Linked DNA regions of Homo sapiens: region 1 is linked to region 2. Evidence: fine-mapped expression QTL. A gene starts in region 2. The other region holds a variant in brackets. All regions are shown on one strand. Distances are between the middles of the regions.

Region 1 (10,079 bases), 45 kb before region 2:
GCACCTATTCTGGATACTTAATCTCTGTTCGTTATCCTTTTGTGGATTTTGTTTTCACTTTTAATTTCAATATAAAGAAGTTTAAAATTTAATGTAGTTGAATTTCTTAATGTTTTCCTTGGGCTTTTGGGGCCTTCTTAAAGAAGCCCTTGTTTCCAGAGCTCACAAAGATGTCTTAGGCTTAGAAACACTCAGAGCTTATTTATTTATTGTGTGGGGCTGGTGAGGGCTCTAATTTTTCTCCCCCAAACACAGATAACTAAGGCCGTCCAGGTGGCAGAGCTTCAGAGTTTGCACTGCTCTTCCCTGCAGGCTGCGTTCCTCTGCCTATCTGTCTCAGCCCCTTTCTGCAGGGCCAGGCTCCCTTTACAGCTCGCTCTACTGAGTTTCCTGTTGTGATACATTGTTTCCCATTTGAAAATGCCTTTATCACAAGCAGATTCTTGAACGAGCATCTACTTCAAGGCTTGATTCTAAGCTGGCGGTGGAGAGTAAGGAGTCACACTTGCTGGATCTGTCACACGGCTTCTGGCTCCCACTGTGGCCGTGGCAAAGCCGAGTCTCAGTCTCGGTGTCCGCTCTCAGAGGTAATTTGCGTTTTTTCCTTGGGTGCATTTAAGATATTCTCTTTGCGTTTGGTGTCCTGCAATTTCATTATGAGATGGATGGATGCTGTGCTCCCGATCCTGTGTATTCAGGCTTTCATAATTTAGAGAAAATTGCTGGCCACTGTCACTTTAAGCCTCACACCCCCAAACTTTGTTTAAACGTGTGCTGTGCCTCACCCTGGCCTCCACGGTTCCTAGTGTCTCTTGTTTTCTGTTTGGCTCTTTAGCCCGCATTTCTTCTGGTTTTCCTTTCCATCCACTAATACAAGATCTGTTTAGCCAAAATGGACCTGCTGCTAAACCCACACAGTTTCATCTGTCATACTTGTCATTTCTAGATGTTCTCTGACTCCTTTCCAGTCTCCACGTCATGTTTGGCGGTCATGTATCATACTTGTCATTTCTAGATGTTCTCTGACTCCTTTCCAGTCTCCACGTCATGTTTGGCGGTCATGTATCATACTTGTCATTTCTAGATGTTCTCTGACTCCTTTCCAGTCTCCACGTCATGTTTGGCGGTCATGTATCATACTTGTCATTTCTAGATGTTCTCTGACTCCTTTCCAGTCTCCACGTCATGTTTGGCGGTCATGTATCATACTTGTCATTTCTAGATGTTCTCTGACTCCTTTCCAGTCTCCACGTCATGTTTGGCGGTCATGTATCATACTTGTCATTTCTAGATGTTCCCTCTGATTCCTTTCCAGTCTCCAGGTCACGTTTAGCGGTCATGTGGCTCCTGGTTCAGGCTGTTTCCTTCCTCTAGTCTGTGAATATCTCAAGCATTCTTAGTTTATCTTCTTTAACTTAGGATCTCAACAGCTGCCTTCTCGGAGGTTCAGTTCTGCTGTGGTTCTGCTGACTTGCTCACGGTGGCTTTTCCTGTATGTGCTTGGTAATTTTCACCTGTGAGCTCATGTTTAGATGATTTTAATGTGACGAAATCCAGAGAGACCTGGGTGTGCTGGCAGCAGCTACCCAGCATGCGTGTTCTCACGGAGTTTGCCAATGCCATTCTCTCCACCTGGGCCACTTCTCAGGGCTGTGCTTCCAGCAAGCGGCCTTGAGGAATGAGGTCATGTCTCTTCTAGTCAAAGTGCAGGTGTGTTTACTGCCCGCTGTGAAAGCAGTGGGGTTCTCCAAGCTCAGTGTGCATCAGCCACGGCCTCAAGTGTCCACCCGTGGGGAACCCAGGCCAACGAGAGGCTCATGCTGCCAGCTGTGCCATGAGAACCCGGGAACCTCATGTCTTCAGTCAACATCCGTGAGATGCTACAGGCTGGCAGGTCAGTCTGCAAACAGAGTAGAAGCCAGATCTGGAAACACGCCGGTCCCTCCCGATGCCCGCACACAGCCCTCGTGGAGGCAGGAGCTCCACAGTGTGAGATTTTACAGATCATGATGTAGCTGGCACAAACCCAAACTGCAAACCCTTGTGAGGGGAGGTTTTGCTTCCACTTCTCAGGGCAGTGCTGGCCACCCCCATGCAAGGCCTCAGACAGACAAACTGCCCTTTGGACCCTATCTGCCAGTGGAGGGAGACACCATCTTCAGGGGTCCCTGTTCCAACTCTACACCTCGTGTGGGCCAAGGCTTCAGCTCTTGAAAATTACCAAGCACATACAGGAAAAGCCACCATGAGCAAGTCACCTCGTGTGGGACAAGGCTTCAGCTTTGCACCATAACCTGCTGTTCACAGGGGCAGTGGTTCCTGCTATGGGCTGATGCTCCTGAGGCCAGCCGGGGCTGCAAGGCTGCTCTCGGAATAGACGCCTTCAGAGGCTGCCATTCTGGTTTCAGCTCCCTCTTAGTTTCTGGCCGTTGTGAGATTTCCCTTGCTTATCTGTGAGCTCAACTATGCACCTGAAGAGACACCTGCTGTATCATATCCAGCATTTCTAGGTGTTTATGCCAGAGGGTTTTGCAGAATATCCAGTCAATCACTTATTGCCAATAGACTCCTCTGTTCTCTTGAATTCTGAACAAAAATTCTATATAAAAATGGTGCAAGACAATCTTCCATCATCTGAAACGTAACTTTTTGCATAATAAAAAAAACGTAACTCTCAACCACACTAATCATAGCTATCTTTAAAGAATGTATACAAAATAAATTATCAAGGTACTAGAACCATCACATTATAAATTACATTGGTGTTTCAGACCAGCCATGACCACGCTGTGTCTGGGCATGACAGGCAGTGGCTCTGGGGTGTTTTCATCTACTTCTCTCCAGAAGGAAAGGCAGACTGCAACGCGGTCATTCCAGTGAGGTGAATCACTTCCCCACTTCCTTCCTTTTCACTCATTATCAGCATAATAAAAAGTAATACACTATCATTCACTAAGCATTTAACACATAGCCGGCCTGTACCTAGTGCTATACTTCTTGTCTAAATATAAATGGAATGACAAGCTAGGTGAGAAACTTGCTCAGAGATCCTATTTTCTCTACCTTGATACTATCATCCATCAATCAAAAGGTCTGGAAAACAACACCCTATGAGCGTCCTCCTCTGACGCTGGAGGACAGCTCGCCTCCCTCACTGACCTTGCACTCTCGGAAACCAGCAAGCTTGGGGCGACAGCTCATCTCCACGCAGGCCTTACCTATCCGAACCGTTCCAGCAACACTCAAACTTGTCAAAGATGCAGTCGTTCTCATAGAGAGAGCAGAGCTTGCTGCGCAGGTACTCGTGGACCTGGTGGGTCTCCACCGGCCTGCTCTCCATGTTGAGGTCCCACACCTTCACCGACAGGTAGTCTCTGGTCATCATGTACCGCCCACTATGACTGAATTTTACATCGGATATGGATGAAATTATTTCTGAGAAGAAGGACCTACTGCTGGGATCTTCAGGCTCTTCAAAAACTGAAAAACAAAATAAAATGTTTTCAGCTTCTGTTTAAAAATCAGAGAACAAATCATTTTCAAGTTCAAGTAGGAAGTGGCCCCTTCAGAGAGACTCTGGAAGGGCTTGGCCTCAACACTAGGTCTTCTGATCTTTCTGATTCTCTAGGTTTTCTGATCTTCTGTGACTTCCGTGGGCAAGAGCTTCGGATAAGACATTCTAGCACCAGCTATGGACAAGGGATGGGCATGAGAAGCGTAGACGCCCAAGTCTCACCCGGACCCTGAATGAGAATCTCTAGGCAAGGTCCTGGGCACTGCCATCTGTGGGAGCTCCTCGGGGCATCCTGATGTGTGCCCAGGTTCAGCACCACCGCATTCCTGTAGGAGTGTCTCCGCGTCCTCATGGCACCAGGCCCGAGCACGTGAAATTCTATCGCATACACATCACAGGAAGACACAAACAGCATTATATGGTCATGCAGACACAGCGGTCTGTGCCTCTAAGAAACTGCCTGCTTTTTGGAGGGTCGACAGTTTGTGGGTCTGCAGGAGTGACCACCTTGACTGGCAACGCTGTGGTCCTGATTTTAACCACCAAGACGGTCCCGCCGGTCAAAGCCAGCCAGCCAAGGTTTGTCTCCAATACTGAATATACACAAGCTCTACTGTGACAAAACTGGATTCCTATTTTCAGAAAGATCCTCCCGCCTCAACCTCCAGGGTAGCTGGGACCACAGGTGAGCACCACTGCACCTGGCTTGTGCTTCCTTGACCTGAAGCTGCTTTAGGTTTTTTCTCTTTTTTCTTGATGCAGGAGCCTGTGTTTGTCGGCTTAGCATCTGAAATTAACTTGAAGCCAGCTGTGCCGACGCCAAGCATTTACTCAAATAAATCACTCTGATGACAAATAGAACTGGAATCTGAAATTATTTACTCAAGAATTTTATGCTTAAGATACAGGCCAAATGCTACGAAACACTCATCCTCATCGCAGGAATTCTAGTAGAAATACGAATTCTTAAAAACACACTCAACCTCAGGAAAGAGAACAGGCGAAAAGGCTGCTGCACACGGTCCATGGGCACATTCCACCGAGGCACTGGGGGCGCCGCTGCACATGAGCAGCGGCTCAGTCTGGTGGGATTGACTGGCGGCTTCCCCATCAGAGGAAGTCACTGGACGTGTGTCTACCTGCTGGCACTGGAGGAAGGGTCAGCAATGTTTCAGGACACTGGGACACGCTGACTACAGTGCTCTATAAAGTCAAGCCCATTCTTTATGGCTAAAAATAAAAACAAAACCAGAACCTCCCTCACCTAAAAGGAGCTTGAAAGCTCACTGGATTAAAATGCTAGACTTTCAGCTAAGGGAAGTGGCTTCCAATCCAGCCAAGCTCAACATGAACAGGAGCTCATTCCAACAGCTGGGAATGGCCTCCTGTGTGCTGGCGGCCTCAGCCCAGGTCTCACGCACAGAGGCAGAGGCAACGGGTGGCTCTTGGCGGGACTCAGTGCTGGCAGCCTCTGAGGAGACACCCAGGCTCTGGGCAGAAGTGACCCCGCTTCTCGGTGGTGCCAAAAGCACACTCACCCTACAGCCATAAGCCTGTGGGAAGCATGACCTCGAGTTCCACTTATTAGCAGCAGCCTCTGACACAGCCACACTCGGACGGCCCCAGCAAAGGAGGGCTCCCCAGTTGTGCAAAGGCACTTGGGGAACAGGAAGAACTCTCTAAGTCTTTGGAGTGTCTGAAGAACAAGTGGCTCTAAATGAGATGCTTTAAAAGACGCCAGGCGTGACCAGGTGCGGTGACTCACACCTGTAATCCCAGCACTTTGGGAGGCCGAGGTAGGGGGATCACCTGAGGTCAGACCAGTCTGGTCAACATGGTGAAACCCTGTCTGTACTAAAAATACAAAAACTAGCTGGGCATGGTGGCACCTGCCTGTGGTCCCAGCTACTCGGGAGGCCGAGGCAGAAGACTTGCTGGAACCCGGGAGGCGGAGCTTGCCGTGAGCCGAGACTGTGTCACTGCACCGCAGCCTGGGTGACAGAGCCAGACTCCATCTCAACAACAGACGCACTTACACTTGGAGTGTCTGTCGCACAGGGCCGAGGAGCGCATGTCACACAGGCGGATGGTCCCTTTGCTACTGCTGTAGACGAACACGTTGCACTGGTGCGGGTGGAACTCGGCTGCAGTGATGACTTCGGTCAGCTCCTCCATGTTAGCAGGCTTGATGTCCACGATGTCTGGGAGTGCATGGTTAAGGCACAGTGCTCAGCTCAGCTGGTTGTTAATTAGTCTACATTCAGTCACGCGAAATAGGACGCCAAATAATCCACGCAGTGAGGTTTAAGGGATTAGCTATTAAGAAGGCTGGTTACACATCCCGAATTCCAAAGGAGCGCCTGGTAAGGGGATTGGGATGAGCACACTCAGACTACAGCAACGCCCCGGCCCAGGGGGAGACACAGACAAGCGAACACCGCTTTCATCTTGCTGCTATTATTAATGTTATACAGAAAGCCCTTAATAGCAAGATAGTACATACTTAATCATATAAATAGGAAAACCAAGCTAGTACCATCTGTGCAAAATCCCACACTCCCACACAAAACTACAACACAAGAATGCCGCCAAATTCCAAAAGATGCTGCTCTTCCTGACA[T/C]GAAGAGCTTATTCTGTGTAGCTAGAACAGATCCAACAGAAATCCTATACAGAAATCCTTCAACTGAAAAAAATAAGAAAGGGCAGAATTCAGCTGTGGGCCAATTCAGACTAGCAGTCCCAGTTTCACCCTTCAAGCTGAAACAACTAAGAAAACCAACATACGACATGGAACCCCAGCTCAAGCCACTGGACAGCAGAGGGAGGACGGCAGGGACCCTGGAGAGGCTGCAGACGAAGCAAGCCCCATGCTCCCGGCTGCTGGCTGGAAAGGGGCCCATGTGAGGAGGGCTGGGGCCACCCAGACTGTGCACAGCCACAGAAGAACACAGGTTCTAACTGGAAGCTGCTGCTCAGATGGGTGATTAAACACTGCTCTAACCTAAGCCAGTATTTTCTATTATTCATTAGCAAATTTAGAAAAAAAAAAAGAACACATAATGTTGGTTTTTCAAATGTAGCCTATTTAAAACTGCCTCTGATTAAACCAGGCAGGCAGTGGACTTCAGGTAATTCCCATTATACAGATAACTTTTTCCCAAAGGTAGAAAGAAATTTGTATTTTTAGGGACAAACATTTCAAATCACAGAGAACTTACATCACAGGCTGCTGTGCAGTGATGGTATTTACAAGACTAGACTCCGAGATACAGGTGTATAAAGGGACGAGAGAAATTACTATCTAAAGAGCACCCTCGGGAAGACGCCAGTGTCCCTCTGAGGAAGGATACTAAAGCTTCTATCTGTGATTTCTAAGTGCCATAAATTAATTCTCAGGTCATCTGCAGAAAGATATGTTTCATGATCACTATTTACTGAAATGGAATTTATATGATATGTGTGAGCATTTGCAAAAATTCGCCGTGGACTCGCTTCTACCATAAGATCCATGGGCTTCAATATTGGGACCTAAAAATGGAAGGAAATAGGAATTCAAAACAAAGATCACAGCAGCACATAATTAGAACACTTATAGTAGATAACGAAAGAGGACAAGTTTATATTCATGGCTAAGTAATAATTCTGTACAGGCAATACCCCCAAATAACCAATTAGCAGAGTTATGAAAATATGCTACAAAATGGAATACTGTCTATTCCAAGTCTTCCCCTTGCTTCCATTACCGAGGTCGACATGTTCCTGCTGAAGAGAAGATCAGCTGGCAGGGTAACAAACTGCCCAGGCACCGAGGCCTGCGGCTCCCTCTCCTGTGTGTCCTCCAGTGGCCACACTGAGGCGCTGGACAGCAAAGTCCTCCTGGGTGGCTCAGCTGCACCCCTCCCTTTGTCCTCTCCTTGCAGCTAGATGCACACACCTCTTCTCACTGCACTAGGACTATGCTTCTCGGTGCAAACCCCACAAACCTCCACTGGCTCCAGGTACTGGCAGGGTGCACAGCAGGGTGCTGGGGAGCTGAGGATATTCCATTTCTTGGTCTGGGGCTGGCTACATGGGCATGTGCACCCTACAAACATTCATGGAGCTGGTCACTTATAGGGCAGATGTCTTATCTGGAGGTATGTATTATATATTACACTTCACTTGAGGTTAAAACAAAAAGTAGAAGGTACCTCCCGCCCCCATCTCTGTGTTGAGTGCTGTGGTCAGGGAGGCTTCCTAGGGAAGCCCAATTCGCACAGAAATAGAAAGGACAGAGAGGAGTGGGCGCTGGCTGCAGGCCGCCTATGGTCAGAGGTGAGAGCTCAGGCGTGAGGAATAGCATCACACATGAAAAAAGGAAAAAGGCCTGTGTCTCACTAACATCCAGCTGGAAGAAAAACATAAGCTTTAAAATCAAAACAAAAAATTAATGATAGTATTTTTTGTTATTCTTGTAATTAGAAACCAAAAGGGAGAGCCTTGAAAGCTTAGGGGAAAAAGAAAAGCTCTCAACTGAGTCTTGTCTGGCTGAATTCTGTAAAAAACCAACTTGGAAAAGTGTGTGTAGGGAGGCTTCCCTCATTTTAACCCAGGTAGTGCTGACCACACCCTTGGATTCTCTAGAGCAAGAAGAGTCAGTTCTACCAAGTTCAGGCTTAAAAACACACACCTACCCCAATCCTCTAACAAATTTCCCATTAATCAAAACATATGATAGCTGCAATACTTACAAAGATTCCTTCTTTTATTGAAAACATTTTAATTTGCATATAAAATAATTTGCTTTCATTTTTAGAGATGGGGTCTGGCTATGTTGCCCAGGCTGGTCTTTGAACTCCTGGGCTCAAGTGATCCTCCCATCTCGGTCTCCCAAAGTGCTGGGATTACAGGTATGAGCCACCATACCTGGCCAAGATTTCTTCTTTTAATTATATCCCTTTTCTGGCACTAAAATAATTTAAGAGCAAAAATTTAAAAACAGCAACATGTCTGACTCTTACCCAGTTAGGCTCAGATACATAAATAGCCCACTCTGAACTGTTAGAGAGGTAAGATCTCAAATACCGACCTAAGTCAATGTACAGAATTACCTGTCTGTGGTCTCTTCCCCATGCACCAACTAATGAAATAACTAGACTTCTCACACACCTTCAGTAGGGCCACCAATTATACCCGTTTTATTTAGGCTAAACCTACAAAAGCAGCCTTGAATAAAACCAAGACTGGGCCTAGTAAAGGCCTACTGTTCTCCCAAAATGAGCACGTGAGCTGATGGGTTGTGGCAGGGTCTGATCAGGAGGAACAGGGGTTTCTGAGGGTGGGGTGTGCACAGGTAACTGGGTGGGAGGTGGTGTTGGCTGCAGAAGAGATGGACAAGGCTGGAGGGGGTCAAGTGCCCACCCTCGGGGGTCCCATCACACTTCTACTTTAGGATCAGCAGTTTCATGATGATGGAACTGCACAACTCGTGTTACTGTCACTAAAAGTGATTTACACTAATTCAGGGGTGCAAAGGCGGCAGCACTGTGTATCAGACATCACCAACATTTTGGATCAAAACATCTTGGTTCAAATTAGGACCCTATAAACTAGATTTTCAGCAAATGCCACAGCCTTTCTCGCTTTGATGAACTCATAGGAAATACGGTGACAACATCGATGTGAGAAGTCTGAGGACACTCCTCCTGAGGAATGCACAACCCCAGGTGTAGCCACCCCACACGGCAAAGCTGGAGAAATGGCATCAGAACAGACCCAACATCACTCCCAGAGGCACATGTGTTAGGGAAAGGCTTCTGCGGTACAGCGTCCTCTGTAGCACTCTCCAAGACTAATGTGGAATGGGCTCACTCACTCAGTCTTCACTTGATAAACAATAGTGTAAAAGGGGCTGAAATCTCATTAAAAACCAACCAAACCACCCAACTCAACCACCCACCCCCCGCAACCAAACCACCCAACCACCCAAACAACCAACGGTTTTCCAATCTAGTAACGGCACCCCCTTGGGACCAGGCAGAGTTTCCTTCCAGGGGACACACCTCTGCACAGGTGCTGGTTTCTCACCAAGACACACCTGGGCTCGAGCCCAGTTTGCCGGACACCCTTCACCATGTTCCATCTAATTTAAGACAACATCAGTGGTGCGTAGCACCAGGCCAATTATAAGACATTGAGGTTTTGAGTTTTAGCCGGTTTCATAAATGTTAAAATATGAAAAAATTTAGGCATCAGAATTGATGAAATATGATCATTTCATACTACCAACAATGGAGCAAATAATTTAACAATTAAAAAAGTAATGATGCTCATGGATGGACAGGTGGAGAGTTCTGAACCATCAGCATCTGCCTAAACCAACCCCAAAGAAATTCCCCGAGAAGCGTCCTGAATGTACCTGTGGCCCACAGCTCATCTTTCGACCTGCAACCTGTGCTACTGCACCTGTGAGGTGTTCTGAATTTCATCTGAACTCCAACCTCCCAGGTGCTGTTCTGAACCTTCTGAGAGAAGGGTGGTTGCTATGTCCACAAAGATTTCTGCTGTAGAATTAAATATGAGTTTT
Region 2 (12,863 bases):
ACCTCGTGATCCGCCCGCCTCGGCCTCCCAAAGTGCTGGGATTACAGGCGTGAACCACTGCGCCCGGCGAGTCTGTGAATCTTAAGGCATACAACTGACTTCCTAAAGGCAGAGGCTTCCTATGAAGCTCTCATAAGTCAAACTGCAAAATATTACTAGACTGTTTGCTTGTTTGATGGCCTTCCCCAGAGGATGCTTTCCTGAAGGTTCTCTTCAATGGCACAGATATAAATATTAAGTAAATGAAAATTCTACAATGGAATATAGAAATCAGACCGGAAATAATTCAAATAAGCAGACACCATGTCCCATTAAGACCAAAAAAAAAATATAAATGAATAAATACCAAATGCCCATTATCTGTACACAGAAGAAATCAATAAATATGACTGACAAGTTTTGCATTCACCAACACCGTATTTCATTGATTCTAAGTACATTTCCCCACATCTTAGTATCTCTGAAATTAGATGTAGATTTTATATATACATATAAAAGACATTATAGGAGATTATATATAAAAGACACACCTAATTTCAAAGATTATATATATACATATATAATTATTATTATTTTTTCTTTTTTCTGAGACAAGGTCTCACTCTATTGCCCAGGCTGGAGTGCAGTGGTGCAATCATAGCTCATTGCAGCCTCAACCTCCCTGGCTCAAGCGATGCCCCCACCTCAGCCTCCTGAGTAGCTGGGACTACAGGTGTGTACTACCATACCTGGCAAACGTCCCGAATTTCTTTCTTTTTTTTTTTTTTTTGGTAGAGACAAGATCTCACTATGTTGCCCAGGCTGGTCTCAAATTGCTGGGCTCAAGGGATCCTGCCATCTTGGCCTCCTGAAGTGCTGAGACTACAGGCGTGAGCCACCGAGCCAGACATTATCTTACATTCAATGAAACAGTAACTTTCTGGTGCTGATGCTACAGTTAACTTAATTTTTGTTACCTTTCTGCGACTTAAAATGTTTCTTTCAAAGTACCAATGTAAACTCCCTTGGAAAGGCTATCCTACCAGATTAACCAGATATCTATGTTACTTACATAACTCCCCAGACTCAAGCTTGACTTAAGCAAACAAACCTTTAGTTTTGTTTAGTCTATCTCTTTAGAAACAGGTTAATGTCTAATTCAAAGCAACAGATCATGGATTAAGAAACTGATTAAAGCAAAATCAACAAATAAAACCCCAATACACTTAAAACTACAAATTCTGAGAAGAAAGGAACCAGCTGTTATCAAGCTATAAAGCTATATAAAACCAGGTTCAATATAAGACCCTCCTCCCCCAACCCCTCCCCACGGTTTCTCCATAGGAGCAATTAGTGTAATATATAAAGGAGCAAGACCCATAGCTTCCCTGCAGGTAAGCAGGTTGCAGTCATGTGGAAAGTGACATCACAGGCAAAGGTGCTGCAGCACTTGCTTGACGTGCAGGTGTTTCACTTACTTACTGTCTCTGTGGTATCTACTCTTCAAATAGTTTGAGAATTGGTTGGAAAGTGATGCTATTCTTGAATCCTTGTTACTAATCTTCTATCATTTTGACACAGACTTCCTTTAAAGGCATTCCATTTTCATTTGCCTTCAAAAGCATTTTCACACGCCTCTTGGTAGTAAGATTTTCACCGAGCTTTAGAAGAACAGCTCCATCCCAAGGCTGGACGGCCGCATGCCACAGTGGGGCTTCATCAGTACTGTGCTGGCTGCAAATGGTCGCTGAAGCAGTACAGCGCTCCACGGCTCTGCGGCCAGTCGGCGTGGCTCCAAACCCTGGCCCTGCCATACACTCGCTTTGTGACCCAGGTTAATTGCTCCCACGCCTCGGATTCTGCATCTGAGACTGGGAAGAACAGTATTTCCTTCCTTCTTCGGTGGTGTGAAGATTCACTGACATAGGAAAAGCACTGCGAGCAATCTCTAGCACAGAATGACCACTCAGCAACTGTTACCTATCATGACCTTCGTGCTGGGTCCTCTACAAGGGCTGGGGTGGGAAGGGGGACAGCCAGCCTTCAAGCTTGAGGAGCTCAGTCTACCAGAGAGAGAAGCAAAGGATGAAATACCATGTGACATTGCAAAACACATCACATGCTGAATGAAGTACGTTCCAGGAGAGGGAGCAGGGGCTGGGTGAAGGTGATTCCATAACATGCAGAAAAAATCTGCACAACAGTTAACAATTTCCAGAAAGGAGCCACCGTTTAGAACCGCAACATCGTGGAATTAGAAGCTAACAAACAACTTTTCTACTTGCTTCCTGCTGGAAGCCCCCTGGTTTTACTATTTTAACTCTTGGTCAACTCAGCATATAAACTCACCTAGTCCCACCTTCCAGCAAAGGGAGGAGATGCAAGTCACCACTGACTGCTGCTTATACACCTGCTCATCAGCAGGACACTTAATAACTTCCTTGTGAGCTCAGCTCTACTCCTACCTGCAGGGGGATGGGAAGTCTGATGACCCAGTGGAATCACAACTCTTAGCAAAATGACCTGACCCATAGCTAAACCCAATTCTTTTAAAAAAAAAAGGGGGGTGGGGTGCGCATCAAATTTTACATAGGCCAGCACTTTCACCATAGGTTGATTCTGATTCCCCAGCCCAAAACTATTAGTTTTAAAAACAAAACAGAAATCAAAACAAAAACCAAAGGCTTTTCTATGTCACTCACTTCATGACCTCCAAAGTCAGGAGTGCCTACTCCTAGCCCTGCACCACTTCCTGTGCACTGGGCATCACCCCACTGAAGTCAGGAGAGGACCCAGGCCTTAATCTCTAAGGCTCCTTCTCCTTACCCATTGCAGAGAGGGCAGAAAGACGGCCAGAGTGCAGGGCTGTAGTAAAGCTCTACAGAGCTGAACTTGGCCCAGAACAAAACCTTCAAGAACAAAATGCCTCACAAGCCACAAATCTAAACAAACAAAATCTGCTATACCTTAAGTTCTACAGCCTGAGCAGCAGTGCACGATAAAAACCCCTGTGAACTGCCCATCTCTCTTTTTTTTTTTGAGACAAAGTCTTGCTCTGTCGCCCAGGCTGGAGTGCAGTGGCACGATCTCGGCTCACTGCAAGCTCTGCCTCCCGGGTTCATGCCATTCTCCTGCCTCAGCCTCCCAAGTAGCTGGGACTGCAGGCGCCCGCCATCACACCCGGCTAATTTTTGTATTTTTAGTAGAGACGGGGTTTCACCGTGTTAGCCAGGATGGTCTCGATCTCCTGACCTTGTGATCTGCCTGCCTCGGCCTCCCAAAGTGCTGGGATTACAAGCGTGAGCCACTGCGCCCGGCCATCTCTCTCCTTTTTTTTTTTTTTTTGAGACGGAGTCTCGCTCTGACGCCCAGGCTGGAGTGCAATGGCACCATCTCGCCTCACTGCAACCTCCACCTCCCAGGTTTAAGCAATCCTCCTGTCTCAGTCTCCTGAGGAGCTGGAATTACAGGCCGGCCCTGCCACGCCTGGCTAATTTTTGTATTTTTAGTAGAGATGGGGTTTCGCCATATTGGCCAGGCTAGTCTCAAACTCCTGACCTCAAGTGATCCACCCGCCTCAGCCTCCCAGAGTGCTGGGGTTACAGGTGTGAGTCACCGTACCCAGCCACCCATCTCTTATCTCTCACCAACATCTCTCCCTCAAGGTTGCGTTTGGGCATGACCAGCTTCTTGATCCTTGCTGCTCAGCAATCCCTGGTGACTAACGACTACACTTCCCTTCATCATCACTGACTCTCTGGTGTTAATACAAAGCAACGGTATCACAACTATGGGACAAATCGATGGTGACTTATAAATGTGTTAATCTGGATGGGTTACTATGGCCAAAGCATACATGGATTAAAATAGACAGCTCTGAATACACAGAATAACCAAAACACATGCAGATAATTACCACAAAGCAATGTTACAAAAGAAACCACGACAACTCGAAATACCAAACTTTTGGATTTACTCAAAATTTAACTTAAAATAGGGATTTAAAACTGCAAAAAGTTCCCATCAGTTTAATTCAGAGAACAAAGTATTTGTCAAGATTTTTTTTTTTTTTTTTTTTTTTTGAGATGGAGCCTTGTTCTATTGTCCAGGCTGGAGGGCAATGGCACGATCTCCACTCACTGCAACCTCCACCACCCGGGTTCAAGTGATTCTCCTGCCTCAGCCTCCCAGGTAGCTGGGATTACATGCATGTGCCACCACGCCCGGCTAACTTCTGTATTTTTAGCAGAGACGGGGTTTCACTGTGTTGGCCAGGCTGGTCTCAAACTCCTGACCTCAAGTGATCTGTCCACCTTGGCCTCCCAAAGTGCTGGAATTATAGGCATGAGCCACAACACCCGGCCCAAGATTTTTTTTAAAGAAAGAATACTATTTTCATATGTGTACAGTCACATTTAAAATATACTACCTTAGTTATACTTAAATTTTAATTCATTCAGCTTATCAATAATTTTTTTTTTTTTAAGTAAAGAAACCAGGCAGGTGCGGTGGCTCACGCCTATAATCTCAGCACCTTGGGAGACTGACGTGGGCAGACCACTTGAGCCCAGGAGTTCAAGACCAGCCTGGGCAACATGGCGAAATCCCCTACAACAATACAAAAATTAGCCTGGTGTGGTGGTGCACGCGTGTGTGTGGTCCTAGCTACTTCAGAGACTGAGGTGGGCGAATCGCTTGAGCCTAGGAGGCAGAGGTTGCAGTGAGCCCAGATCGCACCACTGCACTCCATCCAGCCTGGGCTACAAAGTGAGACCCTGTCTCCAAAAAACAAAATAAAGAGTTAACAGAAATTAAGGCAAGCATTAAGCCCTCTCACTTTCCTACTCCCAAACAAGTTTTGCTTTACTTGCGACAGAAATCACACTTGAGTAAGGCTGAACTGTCACTTGCTTAGCATATGCAAAATCAAACAAAAAAAGTAATGCATTTTAAAGAAATAAAATCAATAAACTTTTTAGATCACATAAAATGCACCTAGTTTTAATCTCAAACCATATATATTACGCATTTCTTAGAGCCCAGTTTCACCTGCTTAATAACCTAGGCCCTGTTTGTCCCAGGGGGCGCAGAATCTCCAGATGTCCTCAGGGGTCATGTGCCAAACCAGACACTGCCAGGGAGAGGTACAGGGTAGGGAAGAGGGAGTAAAAGTTCACGGGGTTGGGGGGGCCGAGATGGAGGGAAGTGAACAGGACGTCTGACAAGGGGCTTTTAGTAACTTGAGGCAGGGAAGGTGTATTTGGTGCAAACACCAATCATTTTTAAGAAAAGGTTAAAGGTTTACAATGTTCAGTAAGATGTATGAACAACAACAAAAAAGTCACTATGACTCTGAATCTGAAATATTAATCAAACTTCTAAGACTCGACCAAGTTCTCCATTCAACGGTGAAAAAGGAAAGCTACATAGCTTTTTAACTTTAAGGTGACAGGTAAGCTTCATGGGAAGCTGGGGTGGGAGGCACTTCCCAGTTCCCTCCCACCACCCTAAAACTTTGTGCCTGGGCCAATTTGAGAGTATGATTTAAGGAAAAGACCAGTGAACTTCAAGTAATACCATGAAGTTCAAGACTAAAATCTGGAATAGAGACCTTAAAATATATCAGTAGAGAAAGTAGCAGTACCTCACAGTAAAATTCAAGGATTTTAGAACCGCAGAAAGCAGACCTTAAGAATCAGGGAGCCGAGGCAACCAGCTCGCTCAAGAGCGCACCGCCGATGAAACGCAGAGCCTGGTGGGGGCCGAGGCCCCGACCCAGCCCTAGGCGCGTTCCCAGCCTCTGGGCCATTGTGCCGCGCTGCCCGAGCGCACGATATGGACTCCGTTCCCGTCCCCGGCTCCGCCGCGGTCTCCTCAGTTCCGCCCCAGGCAGGAGGCAGCCCCGGGCTTCGGTTCCGCCCCGGGCAGGAGGCAGCCCCAGGCGCTGGGTTCGGAGGACCCGGCCGCCCGTGACCTTGGTGACTTACATAAGTCCCGCCGCGGGCCCGACGCCTCCGCCCGTGCCCCGCGGGCCGGGACAGCGGACAGAGGACGGCCGCCCCCCGATCACGGCCCCCAGCTCGGCCCCTGGCCCCTGCCCCGCCCGGCCCCCATCCTCCTGCCTGCCTTCCACGGACGCTTGGGGCCCGGAGGCCGCGCGCGGCCGGGCTGGGAGCTGTCCGCGAGGGTCCCGGGGCGGGGCGCGGCGCGGGGCTCACCTTCGGCCACGTCCTCGTCGATGGCCCCCTTGACCTGCGAGAAGCACCACTGGAAGTCGTTGCCGCCCGCGGGGCAGCCGCCGCCTCCGGCTCCTGCAAACACAACGGGGCGGTCAGGCCGGCCGCGGCCCCCGCCCGCCCCCGTGGTCCCCGCCGGCCCGCGCAGACCCCTCACCTGCCATGGCAGCCGGCGGCGGGACGGGCGGGGACCGCGGCAGACCAGGGAGACGGCCTCCGCGCCGCTGCAGCCGAGCGCTCAGCCCCGGGGCCGCCACCACCGCCGGCGCCGCCGCCGCCGCCGCCGCCGCCGGGGAGGGATTTTTTTCCCTTTTCAAAATGGCGCCCAATGCCCGTCGCCCCGCTCGATGACGTCATCGCCCTCCGCCTCCTCGGACGGGCAGCGGACGGGGCGGGCCGCGGGGGCTGCCGGGGGCGCCCAATGCGCCTGCGCCCGGCGCCGCTCGGCTGTAGGGGGGAAGGGACGCCTGGGCGACTGCGGAGGGAAGCCGGGGTCGCCGGGCGCAGGCCAGCTCCTCGGCCCTCGGCCCTAGGCCTCCCGCAGTGGTCCGGTGTGCACCCGGCGCTCCCCAGAAGACTAGCGCCGCCGGCCGCCCCTACTCTCCGGGGACTCCCGGAGAGCCTAAGCTGCGGCCGGACACGCCTTCAGGGCGCCGCTTGGCCGGACACGCCCCCATCCCGCATCGGCCAATGGAAACGTGGGTTCTCCGTGGAACCGCCAATGGAGGACGCGCTTGGCGGCGGTGGGCGGGCATGTGGGCCGGCCTCACCTGAGCGCGCCGTACCTGAGCGCTGCCTCCCGCCCACTGCCCCCGACGCGGAGTCTCGCTCTGTTCCCCGGGCTGGAGTGCGGGGGCGCGATCTCGACTCCCTAAAAGCCTCGACCTCCTGGGCTCAATCCATCCTACTGCTTCAGCCTCGGAAGTAGCTGCGAGCACAGGCACGCGCCGCCAGGCTCGCTGATTTTTAAATTTTTTGTAGAGACGGGGGTCTATGTTGCTCAGGCTGGTCTCGAACTCCTGGGCTCGAGCCATCTGCCGGCCTCGGTCTCCCAATCCTGTCCACCTCCCTTTCGGAGCGCACCGTTGCTCACCAGATGGCTACCTTAGGGGTTCTTGGAGCTCCCAGTGCAGTCTTAGGGAAACAGGGCCGATCGTTTCATTTGCGGGTGGTTTTCTCTGGCATACTGAGCGATCATGGGTGCTCCTCGACTTACAGTGGGGCTACCCTCCCCGCAAATAAGCCCTTCCTAAGTCAAAAATGCATCTAATACCCAATCTACCCGTCGTAAAGTTGAAAAATCTGAAGTCGAGCTATCATCAGGGGGACTGTCCCTATGGGATTGATGTCCGGAATCAGAACTTCTTTCAGGGTAGCTGCGGTGGGCACTGATGGTATTGCACCACTAAAAGACAGTCGCTGCAAATCAGGAACATTCGTCCACTCCATTAATATTATTTATTGACAGCTCCTGCCACGTGCGGCACACTCCACAGCCCTGGGGGTGAGAGGTTAACAGAGCAGAGAAATCTCAGCCCTGGTAGAGCTTACCTTTCAGTGGGGGAGACAGACAATAAGGAAATAAATACATAATAAGTCGGAGCTGGAGAGAAAAATCAGGGAAGAAGGAAATGTGTATGGGGAGAGTTGGAGTCTTGCACGGGGTGACTGGAGAAGACTCAAGGATAAAGAGCAAACCATGCAGACGTCTAGGAAAGCTTGGCCAGGAAGGGGAGACCACCAAGTGCCAGGACAGGAAGGAGGGCCATGCCTGGCATGGGCAGGAGGCAGCCAGAAGCTGCGTGGGTGCAGAGTGAGTGGAGGGGAGGCCAGGGGTTGGAGTCAAGGCAGGGAGGTAAGTGGAGGAGGATGGACAGTGGGCAGGCCATTTAGGGGACTTGGACTCTGAATGAGATGGGCTCATGAACAGAAGACGATCGTGATGGACTTGGGCTTTTGGATGCTCTGCTGAGAATAGCTTGTGGGGACCCAAAGAGGGGAAGCAGGGAGACCAATCAGGTGGCCAGCTGGGCTGACCAGGCATGGGGATGAGGATAGAGTGGTGAACATGGGGTGGGGTGGTGAGAACCAGTCAGATTTCAGAGAAAAGTGCTTCGACAGCAGAGCCCCTGGGATTTGCTGATGGAAAAGATGCGGTGTGAGAGAAAGCAGGGACTTAGGAATGCCTGCTCTCGGGTGGTCTGAGCACCTGGAAGGATGGAGTTTCTGCAGCAGAAGGCACAGCTGGGTGGGGGCGGTGCAGCCCGACCAGAGGTTCGCTGTCAACACATAGTGCTGTTGCACAGACAGGCTGGGAGCACACAGGGAAGTCAGAGCCAGAGCATCAAGGTGAGAGCATTTAGAGGTCATTTCAAGTCAGGAAACTGGGTGAGGTCACCTCAGGAGGGAGGACAGATGGGGGACAGGACCAAGGACAGAGCCCTGAAGGGGTGAGGACGTGGAGGATGAGTGAGCAGCCTGCGAGGTGGGCTCCTGGAGAACCCATCTCCAGGATCCACTGAAGACAGGAGGGAGTGGCTGCTCTGTGATGCTATGTGATGAGTATACAGGAGTGACCATTTGGTTGTAGGGACTGGGAGGCCATTACTGACTTGGACGGAGCGGTGGCTATGGAATGGACTCAGATCACAAGTTTGCAGAGGGCTCTGGGGACAGTGGCAGGAGAGGAACTAGAGGCAGTGAATACCTACTTCTCTGTTGAGGAGAAGAAGAGCAGAAAAATGGGGCTGTAATCTTGTTTTTAAAATGTAGATTTAGCCTATCTGCCCAGGAAGACACTTGAAAACCTGAATTAATGACCAGATCTCTTTTATTTGTTAACTTAAAAACCTGACAATTTATAAATTTAGAAAAAGAGGAACTTTATTTCTTATAAATGGTTACAGCCAGCAAGGTGGCCATCCCCCAGGCCAAGATGGGAGATGGCTCTTCGTAGGAGGAGGAGTTGGGGCAGGAGCTCTATGCTGAACGGGTTGGCTAAACATACATAGACAACAGGCTTTGGGAGGAGCTATGAATACTCAGGAAGGGGCTCCTGACACGTGTATTATGTAACATAGGACCCAATCTCACTCTGTCGGGGAGACTAAACATTTGAATATATTACGACTGTAATCCCAGCACTTTGGGAGGCCAAGTCTGGCAGGTTACCTGAGGTCAGGAGTTCGAGATCAGCCTGGCTAACATGGCGAAACCCCCTGTCTACTAAAAATACAAAAATTAGCTGGGCGTGGTGGCGCCCGTATGTCTGTAGTCCTAGCTACTTGGGAGGCTGAGACAGGAGAATCCCTCCAACCTGGGAAGCAGAGGTTGCAGTGAGCCGAGATCGTGCCGTTACACTCCAGCCTGGGCGACAGAGCGAGACTCCGTCTCTAAATAAATAAATAAATAAATAAATAAGTAAATTAGGACTAGGCCCTGTACCTCAAGAGGTCTTTTCAGGACAGGAAGGCATGCAGATGTGCAACCTCTGTAAACCGGCCAGAACCAGTCCAAGGTCGGTGGTTTCTTATCAGGAGACAGTTACAGTCTTCTGTCCAATGAAAGCTGTAGTTACGGCTGCTGGAGCAGGGCTGGGGGTCACTTAGTGGCTGGTGGAGCTGCAGTTGCTTAATGTTGCTCCTATCAAGGCCAGTGCTTATTTAGCTGCTGGAGGGAAGGAAAACCCAACAGCAGTGGGAACGACGTTTTCTCTGTAAGTGTGCGGTGCGTGGCTTCACCCTCCCCCCGCACGGCCTTAGGCCCTGTTTATGATTTGGCATCTTACTGCCACAGAGTCCGTTCTGTCAGTCTTATGGTCTCTAGTTTAACGTTAACGCTGGTCTGTTGTGTCCAAACCACAAAAGGGCGGGGGTATCAGGAGGCCTGTCTGACCTCCCATCCCCCATTATAGCCTCAGTGTTGAGGTTTTCCTGGGGCCCCCCCTGGCCACAGGGGTGTTCGTTCAGCCAGTGGGGGATGTAGGATTTTATTCTTAGTTCCTATGTAACTGCTTTAATGTGTGTTAAATATGTCTTTTGAAGTGATGACAAGATAATTAGTTTTTGTTTAGAATGTATTTTCTGGTTCATTAGCTCCCATTAAATTAAACTAAAAACAAGATATAGCCACAAAAGTAACATATTCCTGAGACTGGGGGGCTGCCTTCCCTGCGTCCCACTGTGCATCAGCTGACCAGCAAGAGATTTTTAACTATTTTTTAAAAAGAGATTTTTAACTATTCTTCTTATGATGCTAAAAACTTAAAATATTTGGCTAAACCACAATGACTTTTGCGCCAACCTAATAGCTCAATGAATTTCTCTGTTTGGATTCTAATTGGTGTTTACAAGTTTCTGAGTATTGACAGCAATTTTATTTTTTAAAATTGTTTTTCAGATCTCACAGCTGAATTGAAAATGCCTGGTGTGTATTAGAATCTAGCCTATTGTAATCATAGAAGGCAGTACTGTTCAGTAACTAAAAGGCATGAGCTACTACTGATACAAACAGCAGTCCCAAATGAGTCCCCGAAATATTACGAAAATGAAAGGAGCCAGACACGGAGGCGTGCAAGCTGCATGCGCCCCTTTATTTTATCATACTTAGTCTCATGTGTCAATGTAGCGAGGGTATAGTATGTAGTTATTTCATCAGAACTAAGCCAAGTATTGCCACGAGGGTGTTTCGTGGATGTGGTTAACACCCACAGGCAGTTGACTTTGAGAAAAGGAGATTACCCTTGATAATATGAGTGAGCCTCATCCAATCAATCAAAGGCCTTCAGAACAAATACTGAGGTTTCTTGGAGAACAAATTCTGCCTCCAGGCTGCTGTATCAGCCCTTGCCTGAGCTAGCCTGCCGGCCTGCCCTGCTCACCCTGTGCACCCTCTGTTTTTGAACTTGTCAGCCTCCACAATTGTGTGAGTGAGTTCCTGAAAATAAAGCTCATTCCATACACGGTTTCTCTGAAGAATCCTGAAGTTCTAGAACAGGTGAGACTGCTCTACAGTGATTTTAAAAATGGCACAGGGGCTGGGCGTGGTGGCTCACGCCTGTAATCCCAGCACTTTGGGAGGCCGAGGTGGGCAGATCACAAGGTCAGGAGTTTGAGACCAGCCTGACCAACATGGTGAAACCCCATCTCTACTAAAAACACAAAAATTAGCCAGGTGTGGTGGCGCACGCCTGTAATCCCAGCTACTCAGGAGGCTGAGGCAGGAGAATTGCTTTAACCTGGGAGGCGGAGGTTGCAGTGAGCCGAGATCGCGCCACTGCACTCCAGCCTGGTGACAGAGCAAGACTCCATCTCAAAAAAAACGGCATGGGGCACGAGTGTGGGGATTGACTGGAGAGGGTGGGGGATGGACTGGAGAGAGTGGGAAAGAACTCCCTGGGTTGATGGAAGTGTTCTGCATCCTGATGGCCGCAGCTGTTAATGCAGCACGAATGGTTGTCAAGACTCATTGAAAAAGACACTTAAAGTGGACCCATTTTATTGTATGTGAATGATACCTCAATAAAACAGATTTTTTTAAAGGATTGTTTTATTTTAATGGCTGATCTATGTAATCACGGAGGCCAGTATGTACGGACAACGGGGGAGCTTTTATTTTTTGGTATCTTCCTCCTTGGACAAAGTCTTGAAGATCTCCTCCTTCTTGACTTGGAGGCGCTCTTCACGGCGCTTGCGTGCTTCCTTGGTCTTAGACCTGCGAGCCTCAGCCTAGTCAGCCAGGAGCTTCTTGCAGGCCTTGTCTGCCTTCAGCCTGTGGCTGTGTTCCATGAGAATCCGCTTGTTCGTGAACATATTCCCCTTCACCTTCAGGTACAGGCTGTGATACATACGGCGATCAGGCTTCTTCGATTCACGGTATCTTCTGAGCAGCCAGCACGGAATCCTCATTCTCCTCATCCACGTGACCTCCTCTGGCATTCGGGCATTGGCTGTACCCTTTTGCTTACCTATGCCTATGTGCCTGCCCTTCCGGCGGGCCAAGGTGCTTTTCCGGCATCGAGCTGGAATGGACAGTCACTGGCTTGGGGATGATCAGCCCATCTTTGATCAGCTTCCAGATCTGCTGACGGGAGTTGGCATTAGCGAGTTCATTGGTCTCCTTGGGGTCCAGCCAGACCTTCTTCTTCCCACAGCGGAGGACACTAGCAGCGAGCCTCTTCTGAAGCCTGAGCGTGCTCATGGCTGCGGCCACAGCAGCAAAAGGAAAGAGCTCAAATGAATTATTTTAAAGTCTAACTTACCATAAATTTTCTTCAAGTCTATGAAGGACTTTATATCTTAAGAGTCTGCAAATCACACTTCCCCCAAATACCTTTATTTTAAAATATGTTTTATTTAATTTTCTTTTTTTAAATTATTATTATTATTTTACAGAGTCTCGCTCTGTTGCCAGGCTGGAGTGCAATGGCGTGATCTCAGCTCACTGCAACCTCCGACTCCTTGCTTTAAGCAATTCTCCTGCCTCAGCCTCCAGAGTAGCTGGGAACTACAGATGTGCACCACCACGCTCAGCTGATTTTTGTATTTTTAGTAGAGATAGGGTTTCACCATGTTGGCCAGGATGGTCTCTATCTCCTGACCTCGTGATCCACCCTTCTCAGCCTCCCAAAGTGCTGGGATTACAGGCGTG

What was found. PIP is the estimated chance that this variant, and not a neighbour inherited with it, causes the effect.
Region 1: its variant is fine-mapped to the expression of PPP2R2D in lung (GTEx, PIP above 0.99).

Annotation. Positions count from the first base shown.
Region 1 is chr10:131,940,931-131,951,009 of GRCh38, reverse strand. It overlaps PPP2R2D (protein phosphatase 2 regulatory subunit Bdelta), which reads right to left. Exons shown (of 9, transcript NM_018461.5): 6 at 6,865-7,042; 7 at 5,551-5,715; 8 at 3,219-3,480. Among named protein-coding and RNA genes, the nearest start is that of BNIP3, 36 kb to the left of the region's middle. RefSeq lists enhancers at 2,026-2,527, 5,226-6,055. The variant T/C (reference allele first, on the strand shown) is at 6,135.
Region 2 is chr10:131,894,665-131,907,527 of GRCh38, reverse strand. It overlaps PPP2R2D (protein phosphatase 2 regulatory subunit Bdelta), which reads right to left and starts at 6,520. Exons shown (of 9, transcript NM_018461.5): 1 at 6,373-6,520; 2 at 6,198-6,290. The coding sequence starts at 6,379. It also overlaps the pseudogene LOC100134362. RefSeq lists silencers at 5,711-5,760, 5,941-6,340, 6,411-6,920 and an enhancer at 7,161-7,260.